Regions from separate parts of the Homo sapiens genome. Here region 1 is reported to be linked to region 2. The links are microRNA targets in miRTarBase. Many come from high-throughput screens and were not tested one by one. Region 2 holds a microRNA gene; the other region holds the end of a gene's coding sequence. Distances are between the middles of the regions.
What was found. Region 2 holds the annotated microRNA hsa-miR-30c-1-3p (CUGGGAGAGGGUUGUUUACUCC, at 1,352-1,373, shown strand). A microRNA usually pairs through its seed, bases 2 to 8, with sites in the 3' UTR of a target mRNA and lowers its output. Matches are read on the target gene's strand: a 7mer-m8 pairs with bases 2 to 8, a 7mer-A1 pairs with bases 2 to 7 and ends in A, and an 8mer does both.

Region 1: the mRNA of CAPZB is a reported target of hsa-miR-30c-1-3p. The part of its 3' UTR that is shown has no 7-base or 8-base seed match.

The regions. Positions count from the first base shown.
Region 1 is chr1:19,335,817-19,339,816 of GRCh38, forward strand. CAPZB (capping actin protein of muscle Z-line subunit beta) reads right to left here. Exons shown (of 9, transcript NM_004930.5): 9 at 2,959-3,801. The coding sequence ends at 3,714. Among named protein-coding and RNA genes, the nearest start is that of SLC66A1, 25 kb to the left of the region's middle. RefSeq lists enhancers at 1,538-2,502, 3,669-4,000.
Region 2 is chr1:40,755,988-40,760,376 of GRCh38, forward strand. It overlaps MIR30C1 (microRNA 30c-1), which reads left to right and starts at 1,297; the gene lies at 1,297-1,385. It overlaps NFYC (nuclear transcription factor Y subunit gamma), which reads left to right. Exons shown (of 10, transcript NM_014223.5): 6 at 2,134-2,307.

The sequences.
Region 1 (4,000 bases), 21 Mb from region 2:
GGGACATCTCTGCTGCTGCCAAACCCCAGGAGTCTGTAGCCTGCAGCCCATGAACCCCAGGGGCTCCCATACGCCTTCGTTCTCTTCTTAGGGATGCCCGAGGTGCCCTGCTGGACCCCAGAGCTTTCCTCACCAGGCAGCCAAGGAACGAGCAGGGAAAGGCATGGCTGGGAAGTGGGAGAGGGTCACCAAACACATCCTCGAGGCCCACTGTCCCCAATCTCACCAGCTGAGTTTAGCATTAAAACACTAGCAGTGAGGGCTGTGTGCGGTGGCTCACACCCGTAATTCCAGTACTTTGGGAGGCCAAGTTGGGGGAGGGATCGCTTGAATTCGGGAGTTCGAGACCAGTCTGGCCAACATGGCGAAACCCGGCCTCTACTAAAAATACAAAAATTAGCTGGGCGTGGCGGCGGGCACCTGTAGTCCCAGCTACTTGAGAGGCTGGGGCAGGAGAATCGCTTGAAGCTGGGAAGTGGAGGTTGCAGTGGGCCGAGATCACGCCACTGCAGTCCAGCCTGGGTGACAGAGCAAGACTCCATCATAAAACAAAACAACACAACACTAGCAATGAGGGCTGGGCGTGGTGGCTTACACCTGTAATCCTAGCACTTTGGGAGACTGAGGTGGGGGATCGCTTGAAGCCAGGAGTTTGAGACCAGCCTGGGCAACAGGGTGAGGGCCCGTCTCTACAAAAACAAAAAAACCCAACTGGTAGTGAGGGTCCCTGTGGAAGATTCTAGATAGCAGAGCAAGATCAGGCCTGTCATACATCGCAGTCACAATTTCTGGGTTTCAAGCATTATTTTTGGTCCCAGGATTGTACGGCTGATGAAAGTGACAGCTCAAGGAGCAACTGGTGGGTTTCCTGAAGGGAAATCCCCTGAGAGGAGAGCGGGCCTGAGCCTCCAGGGGTGACTCTCAGGTGAGTCAGAGTCCACTCCACCTCTGCAGTTCTGTGGAATTACCACTGGCGTGCACAGCAGCTCCCAGCCTAGCAGCCTCTGCTGCAGGACAGCAGGCCTCTGCTGTGGCGTTCCCGGTGTGCCTGTCTCACTGACTTCAGGGGTGGCTGTTTTTCCCTTGCGACCTCAGCTCCTCTCATGTGTCCAAGGAAAGGCATTTTCCATTTGTCCAGTTTCTTCTTGAAGTGACAACTGCCAAAGATTATTTGCTTGGCCAAACTTTAGTCAGGCTCCTGAACCTTCCCCTAGGCCCACCTGTGTGCCCTTGTAAAATCCAGTTTCAGCAATCCCTTGCTAAGTCAATTTTACAAAAACGGCCATCCTTGATATTTTTTTTCTTTTTTTGAGACAGGATCTCACTGTCTTCTAGGCTGGAGTACAGTGGTACGATCTCGGCTCACTGCAGCCTCAACCTCCCAGGCTCAAGTGATCCTCCCAACTCAGCCTCCCAAGTAGCTGGGACCACAGGTGCACACCACCACGCCTGGTTTGTATTTCTTGTAGAGATGGGGTCTATGTTAACCAGGCTAGTCTCAAAGCCCTGGGCTCAAGCCATCCTCCCAACTTGGTCTCCTAAAGTGCTGGGATCGTAGGCGTAAGCCACCACACCTGGCCTCATCCTCCACCCCCACCCCCAGGTGATGTCTGGTCACCCTGGCCTGTCTTCAGCAAGAATCCTGTTAGGTGTGTTTGGCCGGAAGACCCCTGACCCCTGAGGTTTCCTCTGAGTCATTTTCCACCCACTGCCCCCCTCTGCTCCTTGGCTCTAATCCCCACCTGCCCGTGCTGCTGCACTCAGAGTTGAGCCCAATCTCTCTCCCCATCCACAAGACCCCACTGCAGTGGCCCCTGTACCTACCTTGATGATCCTGGATAAAACTTTACCATGAAAGAAAATGAAAAGCAAAACATTTGTTTTTCCAGCCCCTTCTGTGTGCCAGGCACCTTGCCAACATGACCCCGGGAGGCTGCAGCACCCGTGTGCCCATGGGGAACAGCTCGCTGGGCCCTTCTGTGTGCCAGGCACCTTGCCAACATGACCCCGGGAGGCTGCAACACCCGTGTGCCCATGGGGAACGGCTCGCTGGGTGCATCCCCTCATGGCTCACGGCTGGAGTGTGCCTGCGTTCTCCACGTGGCACTAGGAACTCAGGGGGCAGGGGCTTCTCTGCTGTCTGTATGCCATGGCACTTGCACTCCATAAAGATACTGCATCGGCCGGGTGCGGTGGCTCACGCCTGTAATCCCAGCACATTGGGAGGCGGGAGGGTCACCTGAGATCGGGAGCTCGAGACCAGCCTGACCAACAAGGAGAAACCCCGTCTCTACTAAAAATACGTTAGCTGGGCATGGTGGCACATGCCTGTAATGCCAGCTACTGAGGAGGCTGAGGCAGGAGAATCGCTTGAACCTGGGAGGCGGAGGTTACAGTGAGCCAAGATCATGCCATTGCACTCCAGCCTGGGCAACAAGAGTGAAACTCCGTCTCAAAAAAAAAGATGTTGCATCAGACCCAGGGACCTCAAACACATGGGCTGGCCAGGTTGTGGAGCCCGCTGATTGGCCACGGACAGATGGGGGGATGGTCTCGGCAGGGACTTTGAGATCTGCTTCAGATCTTCCCTGGGGCAGTTTGGAGGGTAGAAGGCAGACTCTGTGGCTCTGTGCAGCCTTGGCTGAGTTACTGCAACTGAACCTCGGCTGCCTCACATTTGTACTAGGCACAGTGGGAAGGCGGCGGGAGGTGCGTGCTGCGGCGCCAGAACAGTGTTTGCTGGTGCTTCTGCCCTCCAACGGCAGAGGGCGGAAAGGGACAGGGACTCTGCACCTCATCACATACCTGGTGTTTTCAGGGCGGCGGGGCTGGGGACGGGACACTTCCTTGCTGCCGTGAGCGGGGCCCACACGCGTCCCAGCTTGGAGCCAGCGCACGGCCACGGCCACACGCGCTCGGAAAGCGAGGCCGGCGAGAAGGAACACAGAAGGCCAGCGCTAACTGCGCCCCAGTTTCTTTTTATTGATTTCTTTTCTTTTCTTTTTTTAAGTATGGAGGCTCAAGTATAAGATGTAGATTTTTTTCTTAAGCTTTACAAAAAAACAAAATAAAACAAAAACCTCCTTTTGCATTCCATAGAAATTGACAGAAAAGCACCTGGCCGGAAGAGCGGAACGGTCGGCGGCACCCCCCCCAGCCCCCACCCCGCGGCCTCCGTGGGACGGGAGAGTCTGCGCAGGACGGCACCGAGGGCCACCTCTGCTCCCAGAGCTGTCCCCTGTCCCCACGACCCCCAACCCCAAGCAACTCCCAAACACACACGGAATAAGATTTCCAGTTTTTCTTCTCTCTTTCACACACCACAGTTAGTTCATAAAATTTTTTTGTTTTACATTTTTTACACCAATGTACCAAAAAGGTGGGAGGGAAGGGAGGCTGGCAGACAGTGGATTTTATGCCTATAAATGGGGGGACAGGGAGGAAGACGGGGGGCCCGGGTGAACAAAAACCACACGGTCTCTATGGAAATGTGGAGAGAACTGAGAGCGAGGTGTGGCAGAAGCAGGCTCGGAGCCGGAGGAGGGTGGCTATCGGCTTTATTCTCAGGGAGAGATGGCGCTGTGCGGTCAATGATGCAGCTGTTATGTGACCTGTCGGGGAGGGAAGGGACGAGGGAAGGGAGCAGAAAACGAGTTTTCTAAGAAAGGAATCTAACGAGTGCACGGCGTGTCTGGTTAGCATGAAACAGAGGTTTAGCATTGCTGCTTTCTCTTCAAAGCCTCCACCAGGTCATTCTTCAGAGCTTCTTGTTTTGATTTGTCTGCAAAAGTCTGCACAGACCTGCAAGGGAGGAAAGGCGTTATCAGCAGATTGAACAGGGACTGGTGAGGCGGTGGAGGCCTGGGGGCCACCATGCCAGTGCCTGGCTGATTTGCTGCATGGACCCGCTTCCTGGGGTGAGGCTCTGGGTCACTGGGCTGGGCATCTGCCCCTCTCAGAAAGGGGCAAAGGGGTACATGGCCGAGACCTGCACCCTCTG
Region 2 (4,389 bases):
GCAGGTGTCTCCCTGCTGCCTAGCTTCCTACACAGCTGGTTCTGAGGCTCTCATTCCTGTATACCCTCTCATTACCCAAGAGCTTTTCCAAGTTAGGTCTGGATTTCAGTGATTTGTGCTTTTTGTAAAATAATAAGGGAGATCTCAGTGGAACACAAGTACCTTGAACCTACTTCAATAGCTTTGCAAAGAGCAGTTGGCTTCTGTTTCTTGGCTGCAAAAGGTATCAGTATTTTAGCTTTGCCACAGCCAATACCTAGTTTCCAGGCTGACATTTATTTATAATGATGATAAGTTGGGGTTGAAATTGTTGTGGAAATTGAGACCTAGATGAAAATAAAAGGGAATCTCCTTTTCCTTCTGCCTTAGCATAATCATATTGAGGGTTAAAACTATTTGTGTCTGAAGCACAGACTATATCAACCTAAAAAGTCAGTTCATATATTAACTTAGAAACCCAGAATGTTACAGGTATCTCCCTAAGCTGGGTAGATGGCTGTCAAGTAACCATGTCATGCAGAGACCCATGTTTCTCAGGGGTAGATACTGGCAGTCCTAGTTTTAGTATCCTAGCCCCCAGACATCAGGCAAACAAAGGATACTCAGCTCTGTTCCACAGGGGACACTAGCTGCTTCCTCACACTGTGGCCACAGAGTCTTAGAGGTACCAAAAGAGAGTTTAGAGACTACTTTTTTCTATTGGTAACAGCTGTTGGGTTTAAGAGAATTTGTCATATCAGCAAGTTGGATTCAGAGAACTACTTTCCTGCCTCTAACTGTCTGCCTGTCTAAATCCATTCATCATTCATCACGCACTTACTGAGTGCCTACCTGGGAACGCGGGGGATAGCAGAGAGCAAGAGAGAGCTAGGCTTTGCCCTCATGGTGCTTAACATTTTAGTAGAACAGACAGTTAATTTGACATGCAAGTGCAAAAATGTATACTGTGAGGACAGTACTTTGGAAGCACAGTTGAGGGCACCTAACATAGTGTGGGGATGGGGTCAATACCAGCTTTGTAAATGTTACTTTGGGGAGTTGGAGGCAATCCACAGGGTCTGTGTACATCTAAGAAGTGTCTTTTCCTCTTTTCTGGAACGTGGCAAACTTTGCCCTGAATAAGGACATGAGTAAATTTAGCTAATATTTTTACTCAGCCAGCCCAAGTGGTTCTGTGTTTTTATTGTTTTTGTTGTCCCAGGCAGGGGCACCATGTGTCACACAGGTCACTCCGGATCAGACGCCGTTCTGTGTCAGTGGTCAGGGGCTGATCAACCCTGGACCCTGTGGGCTATAACCATGCTGTAGTGTGTGTAAACATCCTACACTCTCAGCTGTGAGCTCAAGGTGGCTGGGAGAGGGTTGTTTACTCCTTCTGCCATGGAAAACATCAGCTGAAGAAGGAACAGTCTCCACTCCGCAGATCGGACAGAATGCGACCTCCCTAATCAGCCAAGGCAGTACCCCAGCGGAGAGCTGTCCATCAGGCCCCCTGGGTTGCGCTTCTGTGGCTAAGTACAACCAGAACCAGATGTGACACTGGATAGACATGCCCTCAGTGACCACAGAGCTTTCAACAAGCTGTGAAAAGCTGGGTACTTGCCTACCAGTGCTCTCGATCCTGAAATTTCAGCTCAGGAAAAGCCCTGTTTCCCATTAACCTGTTCTGTCCCCCTTGAAGTGGTGGGGCTAAAACGAGAAGAGTGCTGCCTATTTGGGAGATTGGGACCAGGCCTGAGAGGCATGATGTTTGGGTAGCATCTTCCCAACACTTGCAATTAGCACTGTTCTCAGATCACAGGCCTTGACAGCATTTACTGACAAGCACTGCTGGTGTGTGGTTTTTAGTTACGGTACTTATTTGCCCGTTTGCAACTTATCATGCAATGGGTGATTATTTCGTACTTCAGAAATTGGCTGTATGTTTTGTGAAGCCTATAGGATCTGTTATTTTTAGTTTGATTTAGCATAACTGGTCTCTTTGAATTCCACTTTCCTTTGGCTTCAAATGTGGAGAGCTCAGCATTCAGCAGGCAACTGCACATAGCCTGTTTGGGGGAAGAGTGGAAATTCACTGTGGCGGCTGCTGAGTTGGTTCTTTTCCTCTTACCTGCCTCTCTTTCCACCCAACAGGAGGAGGTGCGCCAGTCTGTAACTCCTGCCGAGCCAGTCCAGTACTATTTCACGCTGGCTCAGCAACCCACCGCTGTCCAAGTCCAGGGCCAGCAGCAAGGCCAGCAGACCACCAGCTCCACGACCACCATCCAGCCTGGGCAGATCATCATCGCACAGCCTCAGCAGGGCCAGGTCTGTGAGCTGCTGAGGATGCCCATCCAGCAAGACAGTGCCCCTTAGGTTTTTGGATGGGCAGAGCTTGATGAGGGCAGAGAGGCAGCCAGATCATTATAGAGCACTGGATTTAAAGTCTGGAAACTGGAACTTTTCCCCAGATTCAGCTACTGGGGTGAGATGTTACCCTAATCTCTCTGGACCCTGTTTTTCTCAAAGGTCAAATGAGGAAAGTGTACTAGACAGTATGTTCTCCAGGATCCCTATTAGCTCAGAAATTTTAGAAGGGAAAAAAAAATGTCTGAAATGCCTTATGAAGAGTAGAGGTGCTAAAGTGAACTCCATGCCTGCTGTCTGTGTGTCTGTGTGAGAAGTGGAATTTGTGCCCTTAAAGGGAGAGATTAGGTATCATTGCCAAGTTGCATACTCCTTCTCCCCGTCATTTCTCTGTCCCATATTTGTGTTAAGTGACCTTCTCTTTTTACGATAGTAATCAGAGGACTCTTTCTCTCCCCAGTAGTAGTGTTAAGAGCAGTAGCATTCATGTTTGTTGGGGGTCATGTGAGGCTGCAGAGAACTCTGTACTATGAGCTCTGAATCCAAATTCTCTGTCAATCATTATTTATTCATCAAACACTGAGCATCCTCTGAGGGTAAAGTTCTGTGCTATGTATTGGGGATACAAGCATGAATAAAACAGTCCTTATTTTCAAGGAATTCACAATTTAGTTGGGGATACAAATACTTAAAGGTTGTACCACCACGTGGGAATGTGTACAGGGTGTTAAAGGAACACATTAAAAGAAGTACCTTGGCTCAGCGCAGTGGCTCATGCCTGTAATCCCAACACTTTGGGAGGCCAATGTGGGAGGAACCCAGGAGTTTGAGGTTACAGTGAGGTAGGATCATGCCACTGCACTTCAGCCTGGGCAGCACAGCAAGACCTCTTCTTTAATTAAAAAAAAAAAAAAAAGGCAGGGGCATGTGGTGGCTCATGTCTGTAATTCCAGCACTTTGGGAGGCCGAGGCAGGAGGATTGCTTGAGCCCACGTGTTCAAGACCAGCCTGGGCAACATGGTGAGACCTTGTCTCCACCAGAACATCAGAACATTAGCCAGCCATGGTGGCATGCTCTTATGGCCCCAGCTACTTAAGAGGCTGAGTTGGGAGGATCGCTTGAGCCAAGGAGGTCAAGGCTACAGTGAGCTGTGATTGTGCCATTGCACTCCAGCCAGGGTGACAGAGCAAGATCCTGTCTCAAAAAAAAAACAAAAAAAAGTATATGTGTGTGTGTGTGTGTATGTGTGTGTGTATTATATATGTGTGTATATATATGTATATGTGTGTGTATGTATGTAGGGGAGGGGATGAGTAGCTGAGAAAGATGTGAACGAGGTGGTCAGATAATGTTTCTGAAGGGAATAATATGAGTCTTGGGGAACAGTGGAAATTAATCAAAGAAAGTGGGAAAGGGTGGTATTGCCAGTAGAGGGCACAGCACAGGCAAAGGCTCAGAGGTGAGAAACAGTACAGGGGGCCGTAGGAAAGTAGTCAGCGTAGGGGACCATCTACGCAAGTTTGGAAAGATAGATAGTAAACACATCCTGGACAGCCTCGTATATTCTAATAAGGAGCTGAGTTTGCCTAGAAGAAAAAAAAATGGAGTAGAGGTAGATTGATTGATTGATGTTTTTTTAAAGATAAGTTCTCACTTCGTCACTCAGGCTGGAGTGTAGTAGCACAATCATAGCTTACTGCAGCTTCAAACTACTGGGCTCAAGCAGTCCTTCTGCCTCAGCCTCCCGAGGAGCTGGGACTCCCAGGCATGTGCCACCACACCTGGATAATTTTTAATTTTTTTGTGGAGATGGGGTCTCATTATGTTTCCCAGGCTGGTCTCAAACTCCTGGCTTTATGCCATCCTCCCACCTTGGCCTCCCACAGTGGTGGGATGACAGGCATGAGCCACCATGCCCAGTTAGGAGGTAGATTTAAGTAATTATGATTTGGCCAGGTGCGGTGGCTCACACCTATAATCCCATCACTTTGGGAGGCCAAAGCAGGAGGGTCGCATGGGCCCGGGAGTTGGAGACCAGCCTG